Homo sapiens: one gene and its partners. The protein of the gene in region 1 purifies or fractionates together with the protein of each later gene. This does not show direct contact. Each region holds a gene or a part of one and is shown in the gene's direction. Other genes may lie near its edges.

Evidence for each region.
Region 2: the proteins of SLC17A9 (region 1) and MON2 purify together in Homo sapiens (affinity purification with mass spectrometry; one large-scale study listed by BioGRID and IntAct). This does not show direct contact.
Region 3: the proteins of SLC17A9 (region 1) and PCK2 purify together in Homo sapiens (affinity purification with mass spectrometry; one large-scale study listed by BioGRID and IntAct). This does not show direct contact.
Region 4: the proteins of SLC17A9 (region 1) and ACAA2 purify together in Homo sapiens (affinity purification with mass spectrometry; one large-scale study listed by BioGRID and IntAct). This does not show direct contact.
Region 5: the proteins of SLC17A9 (region 1) and XPOT purify together in Homo sapiens (affinity purification with mass spectrometry; one large-scale study listed by BioGRID and IntAct). This does not show direct contact.
Region 6: the proteins of SLC17A9 (region 1) and CACHD1 purify together in Homo sapiens (affinity purification with mass spectrometry; one large-scale study listed by BioGRID and IntAct). This does not show direct contact.
Region 7: the proteins of SLC17A9 (region 1) and TMEM59L purify together in Homo sapiens (affinity purification with mass spectrometry; one large-scale study listed by BioGRID and IntAct). This does not show direct contact.

What each region holds. Positions count from the first base shown.
Region 1 is NC_000020.11:62,966,209-62,969,708, forward strand, and holds the end of SLC17A9 (voltage-gated purine nucleotide uniporter SLC17A9), read left to right. Parts: intron 1-316; coding exon 317-372; intron 373-494; coding exon 495-524; intron 525-1,128; coding exon 1,129-1,292; 3' UTR 1,293-3,377; downstream 3,378-3,500. UniProt on the Homo sapiens protein: Voltage-gated ATP nucleotide uniporter that can also transport the purine nucleotides ADP and GTP. Uses the membrane potential as the driving force to control ATP accumulation in lysosomes and secretory vesicles.
Region 2 is NC_000012.12:62,469,826-62,473,325, forward strand, and holds part of MON2 (protein MON2 homolog), read left to right. Parts: intron 1-875; exon of another isoform or gene 876-953; intron 954-3,500. UniProt on the Homo sapiens protein: Plays a role in regulating membrane trafficking of cargo proteins. Together with ATP9A and DOP1B, regulates SNX3 retromer-mediated endosomal sorting of WLS away from lysosomal degradation.
Region 3 is NC_000014.9:24,097,311-24,100,810, forward strand, and holds part of PCK2 (phosphoenolpyruvate carboxykinase [GTP], mitochondrial isoform 1 precursor), read left to right. Parts: intron 1-892; coding exon 893-1,077; intron 1,078-1,164; coding exon 1,165-1,368; intron 1,369-1,738; coding exon 1,739-1,926; intron 1,927-2,247; coding exon 2,248-2,410; intron 2,411-2,684; coding exon 2,685-2,903; coding exon of another isoform or gene 2,904-2,995; exon of another isoform or gene 2,996-3,443; intron 3,444-3,500. UniProt on the Homo sapiens protein: Mitochondrial phosphoenolpyruvate carboxykinase that catalyzes the conversion of oxaloacetate (OAA) to phosphoenolpyruvate (PEP), the rate-limiting step in the metabolic pathway that produces glucose from lactate and other precursors derived from the citric acid cycle.
Region 4 is NC_000018.10:49,810,734-49,814,671, reverse strand, and holds the start of ACAA2 (3-ketoacyl-CoA thiolase, mitochondrial), read left to right. Parts: upstream 1-1,138; 5' UTR 1,139-1,187; coding exon 1,188-1,203; intron 1,204-3,938. UniProt on the Homo sapiens protein: In the production of energy from fats, this is one of the enzymes that catalyzes the last step of the mitochondrial beta-oxidation pathway, an aerobic process breaking down fatty acids into acetyl-CoA.
Region 5 is NC_000012.12:64,428,392-64,431,891, forward strand, and holds part of XPOT (exportin-T), read left to right. Parts: intron 1-1,657; coding exon 1,658-1,896; intron 1,897-3,146; coding exon 3,147-3,432; intron 3,433-3,500. UniProt on the Homo sapiens protein: Mediates the nuclear export of aminoacylated tRNAs. In the nucleus binds to tRNA and to the GTPase Ran in its active GTP-bound form. Docking of this trimeric complex to the nuclear pore complex (NPC) is mediated through binding to nucleoporins.
Region 6 is NC_000001.11:64,669,129-64,672,628, forward strand, and holds part of CACHD1 (VWFA and cache domain-containing protein 1 isoform 1 precursor), read left to right. Parts: intron 1-2,435; coding exon 2,436-2,558; intron 2,559-3,500. UniProt on the Homo sapiens protein: May regulate voltage-dependent calcium channels.
Region 7 is NC_000019.10:18,611,435-18,615,669, forward strand, and holds the start of TMEM59L (transmembrane protein 59-like precursor), read left to right. Parts: upstream 1-1,435; 5' UTR 1,436-1,524; coding exon 1,525-1,695; intron 1,696-2,437; coding exon 2,438-2,582; intron 2,583-2,669; coding exon 2,670-2,761; intron 2,762-4,235. UniProt on the Homo sapiens protein: Modulates the O-glycosylation and complex N-glycosylation steps occurring during the Golgi maturation of APP. Inhibits APP transport to the cell surface and further shedding.

The sequences.
Region 1 (3,500 bases):
TGCAGTGCTCTGGCCAGTGGGTGGTTGGGGCTCGGGTTGGCATGGTGTGCAGGGCTGCAGTGCTCTGGCCAGTGGGTGGTTGGGGCTCGGGTTGGCGTGGTGTGCAGGGCTGCAGTGCTCTGGCCAGTGGGTGGTTGGGGCTCGGGTTGGCGTGGTGTGCAGGGCTGCAGTGCTCTGGCCAGGGAGCAGGCCTGAGCGTGTCCCAGCCCCTCCCGTGGCTCCACGAGACCTTGCTTCCCCGCTTCCCCTGTGACAACCCTGGGCCACCAGCTCGGTGGTGGCCAGGGCCACTCACCACCCTCTTTCCTCCCCACAGTGGCATTTCTGTTAACATCCAGGACTTGGCCCCGTCCTGCGCCGGCTTTCTGTTTGGTGAGGACCTTGCCTTACCCCAGCTTTGCCCCTCCCTGGGCCTCCGGGTGGGTGAGCCATGGGGGATCCCGGAGGGCTTTTGCTGACCATCCATATTCTCTCTCGCTCTGGCCTCTTCACAGGTGTGGCCAACACAGCCGGGGCCTTGGCAGGTGAGGGGCGGGCCTCTGTGCCCAGGAGTTCCCCTGTCTGTGGGGTTTGAGGCCACCGAGGTGCTGCAGGGTGGGGTTGTGCCTCCCTTCAGAGGGGGTCCGGGTGTCAGAGGAGGGCACAGACCCCAGAGCAGGCCCAGGAGAGGAGGATGGGGCTGCCTTCCAGGTTCCACTGGACTTTGCTGACGGCAGGTGGCTCATGAGTCGCCATCTGCCCTGACTCACAGATATGTTCCCATCCTGGTAGCCCAGGGTCCCCGGGACACCTCCTGGCCCCGCTGAGTGCCATGGATGATGGGGGTCCTTCTTCAGCTCAGCCTCGCCTGGGCCGGCCTGTGGCTCCCATTTTCCTTTCAGCGGGACAAAGGGGACTTGTTACCAGGCCATTTTCTGGATGGCCTGTGAGATCTCTGCCCCTCCAAGACCCTCCAAGTCTGAGCCTGACCCACAGCTGGGACACTGAATTCAGCCCTGGGAACCATGGGGGCTCCTATCAGGCGCTAGACCCCCAGCCCTTCCCCTGGCACTACCTTGGGAACCAGGGTGGGGTGTGGGGCCTGGGCTGCCCGGGAGCACTCAGCCCGCCTGGCCCTCTCTTGGGCAGGTGTCGTGGGTGTGTGTCTAGGCGGCTACTTGATGGAGACCACGGGCTCCTGGACTTGCCTGTTCAACCTTGTGGCCATCATCAGCAACCTGGGGCTGTGCACCTTCCTGGTGTTTGGACAGGCTCAGAGGGTGGACCTGAGCTCTACCCATGAGGACCTCTAGCTCCCAACCCCACAGCCTCTCCAAGGACCCAGGCGCCAGCAGCCCCAGGACACAGGGGACTCAGTGTGTGGGACTTGGTCACTCCATGTCAGACACACGAGCAGAGAGGAACACAAACCACTGTGGAGCCTGAAGCTCCTTAAGAAGAGTCCACAACAGCTGGTGGGAGGGTGGGGTGGGCCTGGGTCCAGACCAGGCTCGCTGCTCTCTGGGCCTCAGTTTCCCCACCTGCCAGCGGGCTCGGCCCTGTCCTCCTCACAGGCTGGTGTGGCCGTCAGGGTGGGTGGGGTTATTGTTAGTAGGCGCAGCCTCATTCCCACCACGATCTGTTCCGCGTGGTTCCCGCCAAACCTCCCTCGGTCGCCGTGTTCTCCGCAAGCCTCCTGCAGCGCCCGCCTGCCAATGTGAGGCTGGCACCAGGCTGCAGCCTCCCCAATCCCAGCCCACTTTGCTGTGTCTCTGGCGGGCTGTCCTCCTTGGTGGGAGCTGTCCTGCACACTGTAGGATGCTTAAAGGTATCCCTGGCCTCCACCCACCCCTAGCCAGCAGCTCCCAGTCAGACAACAGCCAGAAATGTCTCCAGACTCTGCCCAGCCTCCCCAGGTAGCCACCCTCGAGACACGACCTCAGAGTCTCTGTGTCTCCTAGAAGCCTGACAGAGACCCCCAGGGCAGTGGGTGGGTGGCGGGCTAGAGACCCTTGCCTGTGTCCGGGACCCTGGCGCCGCTCTCCCCTCCTGTGGATCCCTCCGCACTAACAGTGTTCTCAGTGGGCAGACGCCTGGGCACCCCTTGGGCCCTGCCCAGCATGGCCATGGCGCAGGCTCTCGAACCCGCATGGCTTTCCCAGGCCTGGTGATTCTGCTCTCCAGGGACGGTTGGCACCTTCCTCGGGGGCGGGCCCCACGCACCCCAGAACACACAGACCCACCTTTCTGGCGTTCTTTCTACCTCCCTTTTCGTTGCCTGAGGAGCTGGTGGTTTCATGAGTTAATGATACATCTTGCAAGGTGTACACATAGAGAAAAAAACCTAAAAATGTGGAAAAGCACGCCAAAGCCTTATTTAAATAATAACTATTAAACTATTCAAAAAGAAGACTGTTATTTTATTTAACACCTTTGTTTTTTAAGAATGAACACGTGTTAAAGACTTTCTGTAACTAATTTCATGAGGAAACGAGTGACACGTTGGAATCAGGTCAAAGGAGAATCCCAGGAACGGACTCCTAGGCCGGGAGTGTTGAAATGAGCATGCCAGCAGAGCCAGGCTGGGTTTCGGGGTTCCTTTGCCGCCAGGGGTCCTGCGTGTCCACAGATGACAGCGATGTACCCTGCTATCAGCTGTCCACCCAGCTTTCCCAAGATGTGGGGCCCCCATGGAGTCAGACAGCCCAGCTGTGCTGTGGAAAGACAAAGTGGAGTTTTGCACTTGAGCACAAATGTTCCCCTACAATCTCTCCAGTTTCGGTCAGCCCAACCCTGTGGCACCATGGGTACAGCCTAGAGCATCACCCCCACAGAGGCTTCGGGACGGTCCTGCTGGACTGCTGGACGCTGCTGTGGGGTCTTGGGGCAGGAGGGGCTTCCAGAAGCCTGGCAGTTGCTGTCTGGAGGCCAGGAAGCCAAGCCCAGGAAGCCCACCTGCGGCTGAGTTCAGAGGTGGGGCCTGTGCGTTGTGAATGAATTGCTGTCTCTCTCCTCCTCATCTTGCACTAAATCTACATAACTTAAAATTTACCATTTTAGCCATTTTTAAGTGCACGGTTCTGTGGCATTAGGTACATTCGCATTGTGCAGCCACCGCCACCCTCCGCCTTCAGAACTTTCTCATCTTCCCAAACCGAAGCTCTGTGCTCATTAAAGGCTAGCTCCCCGTTGCTCTCCCCCAGCCCCGGCAACCCCATTCCACTTTGTGTCTCGACCGTAAGTGTGGCTGCTCTGGGACCAGTGCCAGTGGGCGCACGCTGGGTTTGCCTACGTCTGGCTTACTTCACTCAGCAGAGTGTCCTTCGGTTTTATCAGTTTTGTCACAAGTGTCAGCATTTTTCTCATTTTTAAGGCTGAATAAAATATTGTGTGGATAAGCCATGTTTTGTGTATCTGTTCACCCATTGATGGACCTGTGAACACGAGTGTGCAATTAGCACCTTTTATTTTTATTTTATTTATTTTTTGGAGACAGAGGCTCGCTGTCTCCCCCAGGCTGG
Region 2 (3,500 bases), on another chromosome or scaffold:
TTTATTTCAAATTTTTAGTCATTTCTGTCTTTTATGGCCATAGTGCTTGACTATTATTTTATTTATTTATTTATTTATTTATTTATTTATTTATTTATTTGAGACAGGATCTCTTTCACCTAGGCTGGAAGTGCAGTGGCAGGATCTTGGCTCACTGCAGCGTTGACATCCTGGGTTCAAGTGATTCTCCCACCTCAACCCCCTGAGTAGCTGGGACTACAGGTGCATGCCACCACACGCAGCTGATTTTTGTATTTTTTTTGTAGAGACAGGGTCTCACCATGTTGCCGAGGCTTGTCTCCAACTCCTGCGATTAGGCAATCTGTCCACCTCCTACTCCCAAAGTGCTAGGATTATAGGCGTATCCCAGGCTGCCCATGTAATTCTTTTTTAAAATTAATAATAAGCTGGATTTAAAGATTTCAAATCTGTTAGAAAAACCAATAAAAGAGTATTGATAAAGAATAGTGCTTTATTTACTGATATTTACTTACTGTCTTTGGACTTCTACATGGTTTTTCCTACCTTACTGTTTTCATTTATAACTCTATCCTTTGTATATTAAATTGTTGTTGTAGTGGCTATGGCTTTATTCTGTCATTTTATAATAACCTCTTTCTCTTTTTTTCTATTTTTCTTAGTTGTTATACATAAATCTTCATGTTTTAGCAGTATAACTTTTTTTAGTACAACTGTACTAGCTAATTTGGGAATATTGTATGAAATTTTTTCCTTTGTTTTAAAAATTACTTTGAAGCCTTCCATGATCACTTCTATGTGATTAATATTCAGTGGCCTTTAGAGGAAGACAACTCTGAAGCTTTATGTTTATGTATTTCATGAATAAAAACTTTCTTATTATTTCCTATTTGCAGGTACAGATGAGGGGTATCTAACTGAGCCTGGAAGTTGGAGGAGGGGAGTCATTCCTAGCAGAGGAAATAGCACACGTTGTTAGTATTCCATGTAAAATAAATTTTATACTGAAGATGATTGGAGCCATTAGAGCTTTTTGAAAGAGAGTAATATGATCAAATTGATATTTAGTAACATTGCCTTGACAGTTGGTAGGAAGAATTAGAGGGTATTGAGACTGAAGCAAAGAGAGCAAAGTTTAAAAAATGATGATTCTCTGTTTTGAAGCAGTAGTGGACATAGACAGAAGGTTGCTTGCATTGAGTTAGACAGTAGTGAAAGAGCGTATAGATTGAAAAGGTAAAAATTACCAAGGCATGGTAATCTTTTATATAATGGAGAGAGAGAAATGTGTGATGCCTCCCAGGTTTCTGGCTTGGGAAACTAGGTGGATCACTAAGAGAAGAAATAAAAGAGGAGGAAATGTTTTGGGGGAAAATGAGTAGTCATGTGTGTATATTGTTTGAGACGGAGTCTCTGTTGCCAGGCTGGAGTACAGTGGCACAATCTCGGCTCACTGCAACCTCCGCCTCCCAGGTTCAAGTGATTTTCCCGCCTCAGCCTCCTGAGTACCTGGGATCACAGGCGCGTGCCACCACACCTGGCTAATTTTTTGTATTTTTAATAGAGACGGGGTTTCACCATGTTGGCCAGCCTAGTCTCGAACTCCTGACCTAAGGTGATCTGCCCGCCTCGGCCTCCCAAAGTACTGAGATAGCAGGCGTGAGCCACCACACCCAGCAGAGTAGTCATTATATTAAGATTTATGTGTGACATCCAAGTGGAACTGACCAGTAGGTGTTTGAAAATGATGGTTTGGCACTTAAGAGGGAAGTCTGGAATTTCAAATTTAGGAGTATCAGTTTATAAATAATATTTGAAACCATAGAATTGGATGAAATGGGCCAGGAAGAGTGTGTGTATAGAGTGAGAATATCAGGACTGGAAAAGGAACTGTGGGAAACAACATTAAAGAAAAAGGCTGCTGGGCAGACTGAGGTTAAAGATACAGGAGAGAAAGGTAAAACTCGTTAGAGGAAGGTCCTTGAGAAAACTGAAGTTTCAGTGGCATAAGTATATGAACAGGATTTCAATCTGAGAAAGGACACATTACCTTCTGACAGAGGAAGGACAAAGGAAAAACCGGGTTTGAATGTGACAAATTTGACAGAAGGGAGCGACAAGTTGTGGGCAGTTTGGTCTGTGGCCTCTGCTTTCTTGCGAAGATAAGAAACAAGCTTGTTAGTAGGAATAATTAAGTGATAAAAGAAGTAGGGGGTGGCAAGTTTGAGGAGAGCAGTGGATCACTTTGGAGAAGTGGAGGAGAAATTGTCTTGGAACACTTAAGAGTCTTAGCAGGAAGAGTGGTTGAAATAATGGTGGATTGTGAGAGCTAGGTTGGATTCCCAAAGAAGGAAAGCCAATAGTTTGGATTGACTGGATGATGATGGGAAGGTTAAAGGCTAGCAGCACCTATTTCATCAAAGAGCAGTGGGGTTGGGGAGTGAGAGAGCTAGAAGGATAGGAGTTGGGACAATGGTGGGAATATTGCATTTCAGATTGCCCAGCACTAGAGGATGATGAAGTCCAGGGAATGGGTGGTAGAAGAGTAAAGGGAAAGAAGTTCATTTGAGTTTAGGTGGTCAGAATTAGGGAATTGGATAGATTCCTTTTCTCTCTTTTTAAATGATGCAGAATCAGTAAGGGTATAAATAATTTAAAAGTGCAAGTAGTCTTCCTAGGCTATGTAGTTTAAGTTTCCTGTTACCCATTCAGGCCTAATAGAAATTGGCTGGCAGAGAAAAGCAAAGGTTTCTTGTGATAGAGTTCCTCAGTATCCAGGTGTTTTGCTTTGTTAACTGGCTTAGGGAGACCCCTAGTGAAAGAGATGCCTTCTACTTACTGTGACAGGATTTGCCATTTAATCAGATATTTAGGGACTGTGACTAATGTCATTGGCTCTCCTGGTTGGGTTAACACCTCATTTGCACGACCTTATGACATTGAAGATGAGGGCTGGATAATCTTTACGAGCTTACTTGGGATCTGTTTTGGTTTAGTATTTTATAATGTGGTTTCTTCCTCTTGACATTGTGTTCTTTCTCCCATAAGCGTAATATAATATATTCATGCTTTATATATTGAAAGCTATAAACTGAAATAAATGATTACCTGTGCTTTGGTGACAGAAAAAATAAAAGACATATTCTCTAACTTATAAGCCAAAAAGGAAGACATATTTCAAAATTTGATTTATTTTTCTTTTTTCCTTTATGTAAGCATAGCTGAACATTTTCAACCATGTATGAAGTAGAAGGTTTTGCTGTTACTGTTATAATTTAACAGAAATTTATGAGTCTCCTAAAAAAGCACAGCAGGAACACAGAAATAATTGAGAAATTGCCTTTAGTCTCATGAAGTTAACTCAAGGTTGAATAAAATGTTGCCTTCCCACTAGGCTTGGAACTTTGCATCCTTAGACTCTAATGCAACATGCCATATTAAATATTTCATTTTACAGATGAGGAAACTGGTATAGACAGGTTTAGTAATTTGCATAAGGTAGTAAAGCTGGAAAATGGTGG
Region 3 (3,500 bases), on another chromosome or scaffold:
GAGGCCAAGGCGGGTGGATCACCAGGTGTCGGGAGTTTGGGACCAGCCTGACCAACATGGAGAAACCCCGTCTCTACTGAAAAAAAAAAAAAAAAATACAAAAATTAGCCCAGCATGGCAGCGCATGCCTGTAATCCCAGCTACTTGGGAGGGTGAGGCAGGAGAATCACTTAAACCCAAGAGGCGGAGGTTGCAGTGAGCCAAGATCGCGTCATTGCACTCCAGCCTGGGCAATAAGAGCGAAACTCTGTCTCAAAAAAAAAAAAGAAAGAAACTGGGATTTTTTTTTTTTTTTGAGATGGAGTCTCACTGTATCACCCAGGCTGGAGTGCAGTGGCATGATTTCAGCTCACAACAACCTCTGCCTCCGGGGAATTGTCTCAAGCAATTCTCCTGCCTCAGCCTCCGGAGTAGCTGGGATTACAAGCATGCGCCACCACACCCAGCTGATTTTTGTATTTTTAGTAGAGACAGGGTTTCACCATGTTGGCCAGGTTGGTCTCAAACTCCTAACCTCAAGTGATCCACCCACCTCAGCCTCCCAAAGTGCTGGGATTACAGGCATGAGCCACTGCGCCCAGCCTAGTTTGTAGTTTGTATTTTATTTTAATGTTAAATGAAGAAGCTGATATAAATAAGATCCTTTGCTTTTTTTTTTTTTCCTCACCAGTTCAGGGAGCTTTTGCCAGGGGCAGAGACCCCCAGAGGGCTGGGACCTTGGGGAACACCCCTTAGATGGGACAAAGCCTGGAGGAAGGGACTGAGATGTGATTGGGTGGGGAAACATAAGGCCAACAGAAGACCTGGAGTCAAAGTTGGACTTGAAAAAGTGGGTCTAGGGACAAGGGAAACCTGCTGGCCACCATCTTCCTGACAATCCCCTCTCCCCCAGCTGGCTGGCCCGCACAGACCCCAAGGATGTGGCACGAGTAGAGAGCAAGACGGTGATTGTAACTCCTTCTCAGCGGGACACGGTACCACTCCCGCCTGGTGGGGCCCGTGGGCAGCTGGGCAACTGGATGTCCCCAGCTGATTTCCAGCGAGCTGTGGATGAGAGGTTTCCAGGCTGCATGCAGGGTAACCAGGGCAGGGGCACAGTGGCAAGGGCACGGAAGATGTGAACAGGTTTGGAACCCTTCATCCAGGGGATGCCTTCCTCCACAGGCCGCACCATGTATGTGCTTCCATTCAGCATGGGTCCTGTGGGCTCCCCGCTGTCCCGCATCGGGGTGCAGCTCACTGACTCAGCCTATGTGGTGGCAAGCATGCGTATTATGACCCGACTGGGGACACCTGTGCTTCAGGCCCTGGGAGATGGTGACTTTGTCAAGTGTCTGCACTCCGTGGGCCAGCCCCTGACAGGACAAGGTAAGCACCTGCTCTGCCCCAAGGGGAACACAGAGGCCTTCTTGTACTCAGAGGAAATCCCAAATCCTACCTCTCCACAGACCCTAAGAACCTGTCCTCTCTGGCAACCTAATTCCCAAGATCCAGAGCAGCAGTCCCAGCAGAGGGATAAGGCTGTGTTTGCAGAGCACTTTGCACTAGGTTGAGAAAAATCCGTGTCCAAGAATAGGGGCATGGAAGCTGATGGTTATTATGAGGTGGGGGGCTTCAGCCACCTCTTGGTGCTGCTACTGCTCCCAAGTGTCTCTCCTGCCAATCCCTGATCCCTCTGGCCCCGACACCCCAGTTCCTGATGCTGCTGCCAGCAGCCCCATGACCCCATTGTCCCCAGGGGAGCCAGTGAGCCAGTGGCCGTGCAACCCAGAGAAAACCCTGATTGGCCACGTGCCCGACCAGCGGGAGATCATCTCCTTCGGCAGCGGCTATGGTGGCAACTCCCTGCTGGGCAAGAAGTGCTTTGCCCTACGCATCGCCTCTCGGCTGGCCCGGGATGAGGGCTGGCTGGCAGAGCACATGCTGGTGAGGGCCTGGTGAGAAGCAGGGCAGCTGCCGGGGACAGGGCAGGGGTGGGGCCTGGCCAGTCTGCCTCAGCCTCACCTCCCTCCTGCCAGGTGCCAGGCTGGTGGGCGGGGACTCTACTTGAAGGCCCAAAGCTTTGGCCTCAGGCTGCTGAATGTTGAGGTTTCCCCTGCCACTAACCCAGGCCTGATGGCAGGGCAATCACTTATATAGTTAATAAACATTGGTCCTCCCTATTAGACCCTAGCTGCCCTTCCCCATGCAGACCATGCCCTGACTTTTGGTGACCTCTTTCTTATTCCCTCTCTCCCCAATGCACAGATCCTGGGCATCACCAGCCCTGCAGGGAAGAAGCGCTATGTGGCAGCCGCCTTCCCTAGTGCCTGTGGCAAGACCAACCTGGCTATGATGCGGCCTGCACTGCCAGGCTGGAAAGTGGAGTGTGTGGGGGATGATATTGCTTGGATGAGGTTTGACAGTGAAGGTGAGGGACTCTCAGATCATACTCTTGGTTCTGGCTCTTGTCAGAGCCTCGGGGTCTCCTCTCTAGTGTTCACAATGACTTTGTCAGTGAGAAAGTTTCCTGAACACCCAACCCTGCTCCATTCCTCTGGCAGCCCAGCCACCCGAGAGACAGCCTTTCCTCATCAGATCTTGGGTCCATCTCAGGACAGGGGTGGGTGGAGCAGGACCTTCTTTGGTCTTACATCTCAAGTTTTCCTTGTTTGGTCCTTCCTTTCTTTCACTTCTCCTAACAGGTCGACTCCGGGCCATCAACCCTGAGAACGGCTTCTTTGGGGTTGCCCCTGGTACCTCTGCCACCACCAATCCCAACGCCATGGCTACAATCCAGAGTAACACTATTTTTACCAATGTGGCTGAGACCAGTGATGGTGGCGTGTACTGGGAGGGCATTGACCAGCCTCTTCCACCTGGTGTTACTGTGACCTCCTGGCTGGGCAAACCCTGGAAACCTGGTATGTGCGGTGGGGAAGGTGTGGCACAGCCTCCAGGCCTCAGCACCTTAATGGTGGAAAAGCTTTCTCCACAACCTCCAACCATCTTCTAGGACTGCCAGGAGGCACAGAAGTCATGAACGTTTGCAGTTTCCAGTCCCAGGCAAAATCTCAGTTCATGTCCCAACTCCACCAGTCACTGGTTTTGTGATCTGGCTAAGTTGCTCAACTTCCCTAAGCTTTAGTTTCCACATCAGTTGAATGAGGGTAGTTGTGATAGTACCTATCTCATGAGATTGTTGGAGGATTAAATAGTGCATAAAAAGGGTTTATCACACTGACAAATACACAGTAAATTCTCAATAATAAATACAGGCTGGATTTTTTTTTAATGAAAGGAAAAGGAAGGACTTTTGAACATTCTTACAGAAGGTATTGGGCTCCAAGCACTATCCATAAAGTTTGGCCCATTAGGAAAAGAGGAAAGCTGCCTCCTCTGCTCCAACTCTCCTCCTGCCACTTGGCTCCCACTGTCCCCTGTATAATAACCACTGTCTAAAGGTCAGTATTGTTACCGTCACCCTTCCCCTGTCCCTCCAAAGCATTCACCCCAATCCT
Region 4 (3,938 bases), on another chromosome or scaffold:
TAATACAAATTTGGATTTAAAAACACCCCAACATTGCAAGAGTGTCACCAAAGTGTTTGAAAAGCAGGATTCTAGGGGGGGCATTCGCTGACGACTCAGAGAAACCGTCCATGCCACCCACCACCCCTACGCACTCAAAAGAAGCCCTCGCTAGGCAGCCCGGCCCTCCGAGCCCTGGTATCGAGGGGCTCTCCGCCTCTCCCCTGCCGCGGCCGCCTCCTGCTTGCCCGGCCTCAGTCTGTTCTCAGAACATACTCCATCACCTGGTTCCCAGAACTCAGATTGCGCAGTGGTCTCGTCATCATCGGCCAGGACTCACAGTGCCCGCGGCAGAGGCCTCCCTAGACCTCCCTCCCGTCCAGCCTCACCCGCTGCCTACTCTCCTCACGCCCCTGCTCCAGGTCCCCTGGCCCCATTTCGCTCGCCACGTTTTCATAATCCTCTCAGGCTCCGGGCAAGCGGCGCCGCCCGCAATGGGACCTGATCATATAAGGAAAATACTGCGGGCTCATCCGGGGGCTGCAATGGGGACCCGAAAGCGCCCTAGCCTACTACAATCACCGCACCCCAACTGCCGCCCACCTCTCTGCCCTGCCCCCAGTACAGTACCCAAAACCGGTCCGGGTCCAGCTCGGCGGCCCAAGCCTCTGCCCAGCGGACTGCGCACCCGCCCGCCCCAGCCAATCCCGCCGCCGCCGCCGCGCCCCGCCCACAGGACGTTCGGTCCCGCCCCCAGCTGGCGGCCGCGGCCGCCCGCGCGCCAAGTTCCTCAGCCCTTGGCTCCTGCCCAGTGTTTAGGGTGTTGGCGGAGACAAAGGGGAAGAGTCATCGCCTGTCGGGGCTAGGATATGATGGGTGAGAGGTGTCAAACCAAATTCTCTCGGTTTGGAAACGGAGAAAATCTAAAAATGAGGATGTGAGGAAAGAGTCCGCTCTCAAGGCGCGTTGTGGTCTATCCGAGCCCCGTCCCCTGGGCTCCCTCGGGCTGGGGTGAGGCGGGCAGCGCTACGCGTGGGGTAGGACCATCTTACGCTGGGACCCCGCCAAGGAGCCCCAGGAAGTAGGTGAAAGGGCAGGGGCGTGGCTCTCGGGGCGCCACCCACGCTCTTGAAATCTGGGTGATTGCGAGCGGCCGCTCAGCGTCCCCCACACCACAGACCCGCGCCGCCGACGACCCAGCAGCCGCCATGGCTCTGCTCCGAGGTGAGCGCAGCCCCCTCCTCCTCTCCTCGCCCCTCGGGGTCCTGCCCTCCCCAGGCCAGGCCTCCGCTTCCGGCCGCCGCGGAGAGTCGGGGTCGTGGGGTGAAGTTCACTCAACCTCCTCGGTTTTGGAGCGGACGTGATAAAAACCCAGCCCGAAAGGCTTGTTTGGGTTAAGGAGAAAACCCTTACTTGTAAGGCGCTAGCGACAGCGATTTCGGTGCAATTTCCTGTTTAGTTGAGACCAAAGTTTGCTTGCATGTGACCTTGGAGGTCATTCCTTTCTTCGCCTAACAGTGACCCCACTAGTTCGAGTCCAAGTATTAGAAAAAATGGGGCGGCGCCATAGGCCGCGGGCGCCTGCTGCGGGGCAGCTGCGCACAGGAGCCCGCCGCTCGGCCTCGGTGGTCAGGGCTCCCCGGGTGAATCGATGGAGAGGCCTGCAGAAATGGTAGCTGGTGTTCTGCTGGAAGACCTGCCCTGCTCCCATTTCCCTTCTGTTGCTTTAGATTAGAGCGGTCACTCTATACCTAAGTTCTAGGGTTATGAACTTGTTTAAAACAACTGTGTAATAAACTCCCTTTTCAAAACAAGTGGGCACAGTCAATGGAATCTTACTTTAAGGATGTACGAGTCGAAGAACATTGAGGTGGAATACATATCGAGGCCCTGAGACAGGAAAAAGCTTGGCAGGATCTAAGAACCAAGCATTTTGGTGCTCCAGGGCCCTGTGGGCTCTGTAAGAAGGTGGGGTTTTGTTCCAAATTCAGTGGAAGGCAATACAGGGATTTAAAGCGGGGTAATGACAGGATCTGATTTCCACTCTGTCCGAATTTGGGGCGGTCTGTGTAATGGCGAAGAGACCATTTAAGGATCTATTGTAGAGGTCCAGGGAGCAGCAAATGATGGCTTTGACTCGTGTGGGGCAGTGTAATTGGGGAGAAAAGGGGAGGGATGAGTTGAGATAGATTTGGAGGTGGATTTGATAGAAAGTGGATTGGATGTGGTGGAGTAAATATAAGAAGGAAATGTCGAGAATGATGAAAAGTGTCTGGTTTGATGAACCGTGTTCATGATGATGCCACTTTACAGAGTGAGGAAAATTGGGAAAGGAATAGATGTGGAAAGAAGGATTGAGAATTCAGTTTTAGGCAGAAAACTTTTTGGTGCCTGTGAAGCAGCCAAGTGGAGATGCCAGCTAAGCATTGGTTAGGGGGATCTGAAAGTGAGAAGAACCAAAGTGGCATGGGAACAAATCAAGGGAAAAATCCGTATTCTGGGACCAAATGCAGTGTTTACAGTTTCCTGCAACGTGGATTTCATTTGCCAGTGCCCTTCCTGACTGAATTTACTACATTTACTTCATAAAGCAGCGTGGTGAATTTTTTTTAGACGAGGCATTTACACTTCATTTAAAAGGTGCATTGTCATGAGCTATCTTCTAAAAAAGGAAATAATATTTTTACTGATATCATTTTAATATTTTATCAGTGGTTCTTACCCTTTCTTATAATACAGACCTGTTTGAAAATTTCACAAATACTATAAACCCAAAAAGGAAAAAAATGCACATTGACACCTGTATTAAGGAAGTATAAAGTTTATAAATTTCTGGTACAATTTACTGTAGTGTTAGAGCTAGTGATCGTATTTTTTTCCATTTCCTTATTGTAGCAATTAGGAGGACACTCATGTCGAGAGAGGTAAAGTGGTTGTGTATAATAACACAGGTAGTTAGTGGCTGTGACTAGAACCCAAGCTTTGAGCTTGAAATAGTGATGTTACAGGCCAGCTAGAATCATTAAAGATAAACTTCTCTCAAGCAGCATACCAAGTGTTTGCAGGATGGGTGGGAAGAAAGAAGAGCATGTGACTGATTATAGGGAAAAGGACACATTTGAGTTAAATTTTGTTAAGGATTAACATTAATTTGTCAGATTTCAGTCAACAAGAAGAACCGGCTCCTAGGTTTTTATTAGCACCCATCCCAGTACTTGGCAGGAGGTTTTCGCTCGACAGATCATAGCTCTCCTACTGCTCCTAGCTTTGTTGGGAATGTTTGTGTATTTTTTCAAGGCAAGTAGACAGGGCTGCTAAATTACCTTAATCTTGAAACAACTGGATGCCACCGCAGCTTTCCTTAATTTGCCCTCGTTGCTGCCTGAAGTTGCTCTAAGTGAATATTTACCTAACAATGTGATAGAAAGGTAGTGCTCCTGTTTCTTTCCTAGTGGTGCTTTTCCTGTATTGTCAACTCAGCACATCTTTCCAGGGCCTTTCTTGGAGCTACTTGGACTCACTACACTCTGGGTTAATAGGTCTCTTCACTGTCTTTCAGTTTTGGGAAATTTTTAGCCTCTGAATTTTCAGGGTGTTCAAATGAGATTTCAGTTTGGTGTTAAAGATTGTTAAGTTTTAGACCTTTTAGTATCCACGTAAAATTGACATCAAATGAAAATTGACATGGTATACAATTTATGAAATTAAAAAAAAAAAACTTTAAACCTTTATAGTCTATCTGCACATCCCAGATTATTTGTTAAAATGAAGATTTAAAATAATAATAACAAATTATTTTTTAAAATAGAGAAACCCAGTCTCTACAAAAAATACAAAAATTAGCCAAGCATGGTGGCACTCGCCTGTAGTCCCAGCTACTCGGGAGGCTGTGGTGGAGGATTGCTTGAGCCCAGGAGGTTGAGGCTGCAGTGAGCCAAGATCACACTACCGCACTTCAG
Region 5 (3,500 bases), on another chromosome or scaffold:
CTTGCTGTTAAAATGAAAAGTATATTAAAAATTTTAAAAACCAAAAGAAAATAAAAATTTAAAAAATTCAACTTCTAAATTATTCTGTTTAATCCTATAATTGTATTAGCCATTCTTAGCAGCTGCTACTGTTAGATCGAAGGTTTTCCCTGTCATTTCAGGCTTAGGGTAAAAAAAAAAATTAAGTGCTAGTCGATCTGAATATTTTGGTGTTGGGATTGGGCCATAATCCCAAGTGTTAAAATCCTGAAATCCTAAAAACCACAATTCTAAAAGATCAAAATCTTAAAAATATAATCCTGGAAAAAGTAATTTTAAAAAATTATTTGAAAGATATTACTTTACATTTTTAAAAGGGAATGTATTTGAGAAACATGTAAAAACATGACAGCACTTCATAGGCCACTTTACACAATAAAATAGGCAATAATAACATGCTTTTGCAAGCATAAACAGTTATAAAAATGACAGTTACATGTGTAAAACAGGAGCAGACAAACTGTATTCATAAATCAGAAAGCAAAATGTGTAAGTGCATGTCACTATGGTTAGTAGTTGTGTGCCACTCTGCTTTATAACTGCGCTCATCTGAAATAACCATGACAGACAACCTAAGTCTTGAGGAAATTGATAAAAAACGGCAATGGGTCACTACAACATATGCAGTCACCCAAAGAACTGAGATCACAAGAAATTTTATGTTTCACAGATGCAGATGTACAGAAAGGACCTTTCTTGTGTACATGCAGTGTTTACACACACAGTTAATGCTGTGTGTAATGTACTTTTGCAGAGTCAAATTTCTGATGTTCAAGGCCGCAGAAGAAAAGTCTGTCCACCTTTCAGAGAGAGACCAATTTGCCTTATGTATTTGTTCTCTCAGAGCCCCTGGTCAATTGGATGGTGCCCGCCAACACTGAGGGCAGGTCTTCCCCACATAGTCTACTTGGACTGACTAATCTTTCCTGGAAACACCCTTACAGACACATGCAAAATAATGCTTTACTGTGTGTTGTTACTTAATTATTTAAAAGAAGTATAGCACTCTAGTACTTTTTTTTTTTTTTTTGAGACAGAGTCTTGGCTCTGTCACCCAGGCTGGAGTGCAGTGGCATGGTCTTGACTCACTACAACTCTACCTCTCAGGTTCAAGCAGTTCTCCTGCCTCAGCCTCCCGCGTAGCTGGGACTACAGGTGCGCCACCACACCCAGCTAATTTTTGTATTTTTAGTAGAGACAGGGTTTCACCACGTTGACCAGGCTGGTCACGAACTCCTGACCTCAAGTGATCTGCCGGCCTCGGCCTCCCAAAGTGCTAGGATTACAGGCATGAACCACCACATGCAGCCTAGCCTCATAACAATCTTATATAAATAAGATCTTTACAAAAGAAAACAAGTTAGAAAGCTAACTTTAATAATTATCTTACATGATCATTTATAGAGTCTTGTCAGGGCTGGAATTAGAACCGTGATCTGTTGACCTCTAATTTAGTTTTCTTTTCATTCTATGGTCCTGGGAGAAAATTTGTCTTTATAAGTATTTGACATATGAGTTGGTGTGATAGATTACATTTCCTGTTCCTAATGCACTTTTTCTCATTAAATGAAGGGAACTCAAAAAATAAAAGCTTTAATAAGACTGAATTTCATTCTAGGAGAATGGCCACCAGTCCTTACTGAGCAGCGATGATCAACTTTTTATTTATGAGACAGCTGGAGTGCTGATTGTTAATAGTGAATATCCGGCAGAAAGGAAACAAGCCTTAATGAGGAATCTGTTGACTCCACTAATGGAGAAGTTTAAAATTCTGTTAGAAAAGTTGATGCTGGCACAAGATGAAGAAAGGCAAGCCTCTCTAGCAGACTGTCTTAACCATGCTGTTGGATTTGCAAGGTAAGTGTGATCACAGTTAAAATTATAAAGTGCATGTATCTACACAGACAGAACCACTTGTTTGGTGGGCACACACATTTGTGTTTCCACAGTTGGATAATCCAGAGAATTGTCTAAATCTTTGTCCTCCAAATCCAGTCAGTTAGATTTGGTTGAAGAAGGGGATAGGTTACATACCATTTACATTTTTGCCTTGACAACTGTAAATCTTTAACTCCTCTGACTTCTCTGATATAAATGGGTTGTGTGTTTAAGAGGATCAGCTGAAGTGTTAATATACCAAATATATATTGGGACGGGACATCTTTGGTTAGTCTTGGTTACCTTAAAGAGAAGAGCGTGAGGTTTCTCTTCAGTTGTATTGTGTCCTGAAGATCACCCAAGCAGCTGTTTTTTCCGCCTCTAGCCATACTTTTTGTTGACAAACAACAGCATGAAAGTTGTAAAGATTGCTAATTTAGAAGTTAAATTGTTCTATAATATATTTAAGAACAAGAGCTAGATATTAGAGAGGTTGTATAAAGAATTCTGAAGATGGTTTTCTAAATTTAAATGGGTGGTTTGCAGGTTACCTAGTACAGGCCTAGTCATAATAAGTGGATTTATTTTCTCTTTTCTGTCCACTTTGTCAGTAGGATTTTTCTCTTTTTTTTCTTTTTTCTTTTTTTTGTGGGGGAGACACAGTCTTGCTTTGTCACTCAGGCTGGAGTGCAGTGTTGTGATCTCAGCTCAGTGCAACCTCCGCCTCCCAGGCTCAAGCAATTCTTGTGCCTCAGCCTCCAAGTAGCTGGGATTGCAGGCATGTGCTACCACACCCAGCTAATTTTTCTATTTTTAGTAAAGACCGGTTTTGACCATGTTGTCCAGACTGGTCTTGAACTCCTGGCCTCAAGTGATTTGCCTGCCTTAGCCTCCCAAAGTGCTGGAATTAGAAGCATGAGCCACAATACCCAGCCCAGTCAATAGGATTTTAATAAAACATTTAGGTAGACTCACATTAGAAGGATTATATTAACTACATGTCATTCATTTAAGTTAATTTGAGCTCTTTTGTTCTGGAAAGATCATTGGAAGCAGTAGTTTACAAATAGCCATATTAGCTAAAGATGGAAGTAATTGTGATGTGGAAAATAAAGGTCTGGTTATTTAGTTTTGTTAATTTTGTAATTTGTTGTGCATTGCTTTTGAATACTCCATAACACTTTTAAAGAATAAAGTTGCATCTGATTGCCTGATTTTTGCTTATATAGTCGAACCAGTAAAGCTTTCAGCAACAAACAGACTGTGAAACAATGTGGCTGTTCCGAAGTTTATCTGGACTGTTTACAGACATTCTTGCCAGCCCTCAGTTGTCCCTTACAAAAGGATATTCTCAGAAGTGGAGTCCGTACTTTCCTTCATCGAATGATTATTTGCCTGGAGGAAGAAGTTCTTCCGTTCATTCCATCTGCTTCAGAACATATGCTCAAAGATTGTGAAGCAAAAGATCTCCAGGAGTTCATTCCTCTTATCAACCAGATTACGGCCAAATTCAAGGTACCGCAAACTTTCAGAGCTCTGAAAATCTCTTGAAGATCAGATGTATTTATCTTCAGACATGTTTC
Region 6 (3,500 bases), on another chromosome or scaffold:
CTGGTAAGGGCTCAATAAATGTTAAGCACTTTTATAATAATGTTTTGTGACCTCGCTGACTTCATATGTAAAACAGAGGCTGTAATACCTGCATTGAACTGATAGGATGAGAATTAGAGATGATGCATGCATGTCAAGTGCTTAGTACTGTACTTAAGAGGTCGAGTCCCAAATAAATGGCAGTTATTTTTATCATGCTATTTTTGTTTTAAAGTTCTGACATTTTAGCAGGTCAGAAGAGAAAGCTTAAGCTAATCTTCAGCTTGTCATGAAGCAGTCCCATGAACTCAGTTTTCAGTGGTTTGGCTGAGAATTAGAGGCATTTTCTAATTCAACACTCACTTATCAGTTACTCATAGTAAGCTTTCTTGTGATTCTTTCATACACATTTTTAGTGCCCTGAGAATCTGGGTTTGCATTCTTTGGAGAAGGGTGGTGCTGCTAGAGATGAAGTACAATCATTGAGTAAAGGACTGGTTAGATGTGTCTTTGGCTGTGAAAATCTCACGGAAGTATTGCAAACAGCCTGGTCTGTTGTACTTAGAAATATAGGTTTGGTGTGATTTTTTTTTTTCCAGTATCATTCTTTATGAGTTGCTATGGTAACAGTGTACCCATCTGAAATGCAGGTGAAAATATGAATCCTAGATTTATGTAGGCAATATACGTGCTGTTGCTTTAGCATGTTTATCATTTTGAAGCAGATGGCAGTTATACAAGAGAAGTTTAGAAATAAAATTACCTTATACCAAAACACCTAAGTGCTATTTTTCACCGAGGTAGCTGTAGGGTTGTAGAAAGAGCCAGGTGTGGGTACTGGTCTAATCTATCTTATGTGTTTTTGCCCTTCTCAGCCTAATCTTCTATTTATAAAATGGGAACTATGATTCCTTTATGGCTTTTTCACAGATAGTTAAATAGTGTAAAGTTGCTTGGAAACGCTTGAATGCTCTGCAGATCTAAGAAGGCAGTACAACTTCATGGTATATGCTTTGGAGTTGAAGACACTAAGTTTAAAGCCCTGCTTCCACCAGCCCATTGTTGTGTGTCTGTAGTCCCAGCTACTTGAGACTGGGGCAGGAGGATCACTTGAGCCCCCAGGAGCTTGAATCTAGCCTGGGCAACATAGCAAGACCCCATCTCTTACAAAAATGATAAATACATTTCTGCTTCTACTAGTTATTCACTATGTGACCTTGGCCAAATAACTAATTTCCCCAAGCTTTAGTTTTCTGGAAATTATAATGCCTTTTAAGATTGCTATGAGAAATAATTAAGGTTTTTGTGATTAAAGAAATTAGGCAGGTGGGTGATGCTAAATAATAGGCTCTTAGAAAGTCCTATGTTGGGTAAACTGCAAATTCTCAGCCACAAGAGTATGGGGAGTTCGTTGGTCAAGTAGCACATGCCCTCCCAGTTACCCATGAGCATAGATTAAAAACAGCCAAGGTTCCAAGTGAGAAGTCCACACTTCTGACACACCTAGCAATTTCTTGAAGTGCGTTTTCTCTGAAAGAGTAATAAGTTTATTGTCAACTCATGCCTGAGGGCTCAACTTCACTGTTTAGTTTTCTTTAGCTTAGCTTCTATTTTTTTAGGTGTTCACTGTAAATACACCATCTCATTTAATCCCAATAACAGCCTTATAAAGTAGGTACTATTATTGAATCCATTTTCAGGTGAGAAAACTGAAACTTAGAAAGGTGAAACAGCATTCCATAAGCCACATATATAGAAAGCAACAGGGCCAAGATTTGACTTCAGATCTGCTGATTCCAGAGCCAAACAAGTTAGCACCGTGTTTTACTGCCCAATTTTCTCTTCCTTGGCTGTTGAGAGTAGCAGGGTGGAATGGAGAAAGCACTGGCCTATGGACCAGGAGAGTCTTGTTCTAGAATATGAGCTGTGCTCTGAGTAGAGTCAACCTTAATGTTGTGGGAAAAAAACTGGACTAGACATTGTTCCTCCTAAGTTTTGTATGACCTTAGCCACTCAGTTAACCTTTGTGAGATCTCAGTTTTCTTATCTAAAAAATGAAGTAAATAATAAGGGTGTTGCTAAGGGGGATTTTTTTTTTATCTAGAGGTTTGTTGGAAGTAACTGTAGTAGTCATGCATCCAACCTCCCACCTGATGCCTCTGTGCCCATATTTTTGTCAGTCGAGCCACTCTCTGAACGTCATATTTCACAGCTGCTCAGGTTTTGGGCCACTCTTATTTATACAGTCCTACATTAAGTCTTAAATTTTTTTCTCTCATAAAATTTCCATGTTGTGTTAAATCAGTCACTTAGTTGATCATTTTTGTAGGTGGGAAAAGTAGGGAGGAACAGTGGGAAGGTATTTCTAATACCAAACAATGTCCCTGTGACTGAACATAGCTTTTATCCTTAAATAAGCCATGCCTATTGTTCTCATTGATCTTTTTCACTTAAAGTACACAGCTGTCTTCTGGGCACACTGTGGCTGTGATGGGCATTGACTTCACACTCAGATACTTCTACAAAGTTCTGATGGACCTATTACCTGTCTGTAACCAAGATGGTGGCAACAAAATAAGGTAAGTGCTTTGGGGATGCTATTTCCTTTCTAGCTGCAGTTTAAAAATAGATGTCAGGTATCTCTAGTTGAATGGGAACCGCATAGTTATGGTCAGGAATAGAAATCTAATTTATGGCCTGGGTGTCCTATTAAGAAGGTTTTTGTTCTTTTTCTCTTCTTTCGTTTTTCTGAGATGCATACTGTTTATGATTTAGACAGACTCAGCACACAACAAGAAAAATAACTGTAGCATGGAATGCACCAAAAGCTCTTGTTTCCCTGGAAGTCAGTAATTAGAGGCTTCCCATATCTTTGGTACTAGAAAGACCAGAGAGGACTCTTGGGTAGGACTTTTGATGTTAACTTTGTCATTAAACCAAAGTCTTTGTGACATTTTCAGCTGCTTAGACTGTTCCTTTTACATTTCCCCAGAAAGAGACCATGGAACCAAAAGTCTCTGCCTCCTGAATTTCAAAAGAACTTGTCTGATCAAAGCAAGGGCATACCCTTGATTTAATGCAGGCTGCTTTTAAAAATAGCTTTCTTAGTTCCACCTCATGGTTCATGCTTCGTGTCATTGGCCCTTATGGGGAAATGCAGAATTCCTGGCAAACTGATATCACTAATGTAAAGTAAAATAAAGCAAAATATAGTCTTGATTAAAGCAGTTCTAGCTTCATTTATTGTTTCTATCAAATATAGATCAAATATAGTAGTCCCCCTCTTATCTTTGGTCTCGCTTTGTGAGGGTTCAGTTACCCATAGCATAATACAATAAGATATTTTTATAGAGACAGAAAGACCACATTCACATAACTTTTATTACTGTTATAATTGTTCTATTTTATTATTAGTTAATGTTGTTAATCTCTTACTGGGCCTAATTTATAAATTAAACTATCACAGGTAGATATATATAGGGAAAAACCTGTATATGTAAGGTTCAGTACTATCATCACTT
Region 7 (4,235 bases), on another chromosome or scaffold:
TAGCATGTGTGGGCTTGAATCCTGACTTTGCCAACGCGTCCCGGAGCCTAAGTTTCCCACCTGTGAAATGGGGGACAGTATTGGTCATAACGCACAGGGCTGTTTCCCAAGGTGCGGGCCTGGCGCGCGGGTGGGTTAGAAGCGGAATTCTCCTGCTGGATTCTGGCGCAAACTGCGGGCTGGAGGCCCTCGCCGCCGGGTCGCAGCGGCCTAGCATGGGAGGGGAGGGGAGGGGCGGGGCGGGGCGGGGGAGGGGCCGCACCGGGATCCAGATGTTCGGGGTCCGCCAGGCACAGCCGCGCCTGATTAAGCCACGTGGGGGCCGGCCGGGGGCCGCTGAGATGAAAGCGCGGCCGCAGGCCAGAGTAGGGGGTGCGCCGGGCCCCCACCCGGGACACCCTCTTCCCAGGCCGAAACCTGAGCCGCCCTCTAACCCGCAGACCCTGCGAGGCTGCCGCCCCGTCTGCGGGGGCGGAGCGTAGGTGGGGGACCTGCGGGCTGCTGCGCGGCGCTGCAGGCACCTGCGCCAGGCATGCCAGCGAAAGCGGGGGCATCTTTGCAGAGGATCCGGGTTTAGAGGGGCGTCCCCACTCCCTTATCTGGCGGAGAGGAAGCTGGGGGTACCCTCTAACCGAGATTCGGCTCCTGGGGCTACAGTCCATCGCCCTGGGGTGTGATGGTTATGGAAGTCAGAAGTGTCGCTATTTGCCCCGTTTTCCCATGAGAATTAGACATGTCAGCATCACCCCCTCCCCTTGCTCCTGAGCATACCTCTGTGTCCCCTCCCACTAAGCCCCAGCCCAGGGGTCTCCAGCCTTGGGGAGACAGGGCCAGATTCCCTAGGTCAGTGGATCAGGGCTGGGCCAGAGGGAGGCGAGGCTGAAGGAGCAAGGGAGGGGCTCAGAGGGCTTCCCGGAGGAGGCAAACTGCGCGCAAGTTGTCTCCTTTCTAACCTGGGTGTCAAAAGAGAAGATGCCAGGACTCAGCTGCCGGGTCCTGCGGCTCTCACCTTCCTCCCTCTCCGTTCCCTGGTTGGACTCCAGCCCCATCGCCCTCCCTCCTCCTGCAACAAGCTCTTTCTCTCAGGATCCTCGCTGATCCTTGTAGCCTGGACACCCCTTTCTCCTCTCTCCCGCGTGGTCGGCTCACACGTCGCCTCCTCCGCCAAGCTCTCCGCTCTCCTCGACACCCCTGGGGAATAGTCCCCTCCATCCCATCCCCCTATATATTTCCTTTTGGCCCCAAGCGCCAGCAGAGATCCCCCGCCCGTGGGCACCAGGGAGGTGTCCTGGGACCCCCGCGATGGGATAGACGGTGGGGGCCGCGATGCACCTGCCCCGCCCGACCCGCACGCCTCGGGTGCCGCAGCGCAGCTACCCCGCCCGCTCTCCGCATCTCCCACCCCCCGCTTCCCAGGCTGCCTCGCTCGGGTGACGTCAGCGCCCCGGTCCCCGCCGCAGCCGCTGCATCCTCCGTGCCCGGCCTGAGCTGGAGTCCCCCGCGCCCCCCGCGTTCCGCCCGGCCATGGCTGCGGTGGCGCTGATGCCACCGCCGCTGCTGCTGCTGCTGCTGTTGGCGTCGCCGCCCGCCGCCTCCGCGCCGTCCGCCCGCGATCCCTTCGCCCCCCAGCTCGGGGACACGCAGAACTGCCAGCTGCGGTGCCGCGACCGCGACCTCGGCCCGCAGCCCTCGCAGGTGAGGCGCGTGCGGTGCCAGGTGCCAGCGGGGGACGCGGGATCTCTCCGAAGGAGGAGGCGTTGGGATGGGCTTCTCTTGGATGACAGCAGGAGACTTTGGTGGGGGTGTCCGTGGGGAGGTGGGGGTCGGGAATGGGGAGATCTCTCCAGTAGTTGACGGGCTGGGGTTCCCTCTGATGGGGGAGTGCTTGGGGATGCAGGTCCTTGCGATAAGGGGCCGATACCACCTCCCGGGCTCCTTCCGCACTCTGCTGGGTAAGGACCCTCTAGCACCCAACCCCCAGCTCCCTCAGGCCTGATGGTCCCCCCACCTCATTCCTCCTCCTCCACATCGTGTTCCCTCCCCACTCAGAGCTACCAGCCCCTACTCATACCACCACTCCCCAGGATTCAAGCCTGATCTGCGTGTGACCAAAACCCCCTCCTCTGAGCCTCCCCCTCCTCCTCCAGGTCTGAGAATCCTTCTCCATGTCTCCCCTCCTCCCTGGAACCTAGTGGGGGGAAGGCTCATTTCTCTCCACCTTCACTGTCCATTTCTCTTCTCAAGCTCCCTCCCCATCTCCCTCCTCAGAGCTAAGAGCCCCCACTAATATTTGTAGCCTCTCCCAACTTCATCTCCATCTGGCTAGATGTCGTGGGGAGCGGGGAAGCCTTTCCCTGCCTCTGCTGAATGCTCCGGTCCCCCCACCCTCCTCCTGCCCCTCCCCATGGCCTGAGCCCCCTGTCCTCCCCTCCCCCAGGCGGGGCTGGAGGGCGCCTCCGAGTCTCCCTATGACAGAGCCGTTCTGATCAGCGCTTGCGAGCGTGGCTGCCGCCTCTTCTCCATCTGCCGATTTGTGGCCAGAAGCTCCAAGCCCAATGCCACCCAAACTGAGTGTGAAGCAGGTGAGGGCCCGCCGGCAGGGTGGGCCAGCGTGGGGAGAGGTGGCCTGGGAAGGGCCGTCCCCAGTCACCCGCTCCCACCTCCCACAGCCTGCGTGGAAGCCTATGTGAAGGAGGCAGAGCAGCAGGCCTGTAGCCACGGCTGCTGGAGCCAGCCCGCGGAGCCTGAGCCGGAGCAGAAGGTGGGCCTCCCACTGCGGCCTGGGGTCCCTTTTCCCAATACCCCCACCCTCTTCACCCCGTGGGAAATCTTCATTCACGTGCAGAGGCTCTGCCAGACTCTGCGTTCTATACCAGGCCTGCAGGGCAACCTCCATCCAGCCCCGTCATGTCTCCAGCCTTAGTTACATGCAACAACGCCCCCCATGCCCCACCACCTTTTCAGGAATAAGTGGCAGAAAACAGCCATCATTTATCAAACATCTGTCCTGGTTCGGGCCTGACTTCAACCTGTCCCAAATGTTTTTGTGTCACTTGGAGGCACAAAGGACAATGTCACCCCCATTTAGTGCCCAGGGGGCAACCTCCCAGGTCATACACAGGGCTGTGCAAGGGGCGAGATTTGAAGCCACCAGAGCTGTGGCCACTCCTCACCTCACTCCTCTTAGGCGCCCCCAGAGCTGCCAGGTGCTGGTCTAAGCCCTTCCCCTGTGATGAGCTGGTGGTCACTGTCACCTGGAGGGGCTCAGAACTGCGGCTCAGGGTAGAGCAGGCTTGCCTCGCAAGCACGCACACACTGCCTTATGGGAGAAATAATAACGGTTCATCTATTGTAGTCCAAGCAATGCTGCATCATGGGGAAACTGAGGCACAGAAAATCATGTAGCATAGCCAGAGACCTAGGGGCTGGGACTCCCCAGAAAGCCCTTTCCCCACTTCCCCCATTTTCCTCCACCCCTTCCCAGCTTTCACTGCTGTTCAGAAAAGCTCACTGCACTGTCAGCCCTTCCAATTCAGAGCTCCCTCTTATTTATTTATTTATTTTTTGAGATGAAGTCTTGCTCTGTTGCCTAGCCTGGAGTGCAGTGGTACAATCTTGGCTCACTGCAGCCTCCGCCTCCCGGGTTCAAGTGGTTCTCCTGCCTCAGCCTCCTTTGTAGGTGAGATTACAGGCACCCCCCACTACAATCGGCTAATTTTTGTATTTTTAGGAGAGACAGGGTTTCATCATGTTGGCCAGGCTGATCTTGAACTCCTGACCTCAAGTGATCTTCCCACGTCGGCCTCCCAAAGTGCTGGGATTACAGGCATGAGCCACCATGGCCGGCCATCAGACCTCCGTCTTGACGCTGTCAAAATAAGAATAATGAGGATGATGATATTTTTAGTAATAGGGACTACTACGCATTAAGTGCCTGTGCCGTGCCAGGCACCTGGCAGGCATCCTCTAGTTGAAATTTCATGGCTACTCCATGAAGGAAGAGAACGATACCCATTTTAGGGCTCAGAGAGCACAATCCACTTCCCTAAGGGTACACAGGAAGCCAACTGCCACGCTGAGATCTGTGTTCACTATAAGAAGTCCTATTGGCCCAAATCACTTAGCCACATCCAATCCAAGTGAATTCTCCTAGCTCCTCTCCTGTTAGTTTATTTATTCATTTATTTATTTGAGATGGAGTCTCACTCTTTCACCCAGGCTAGAGTTCAGTGGTG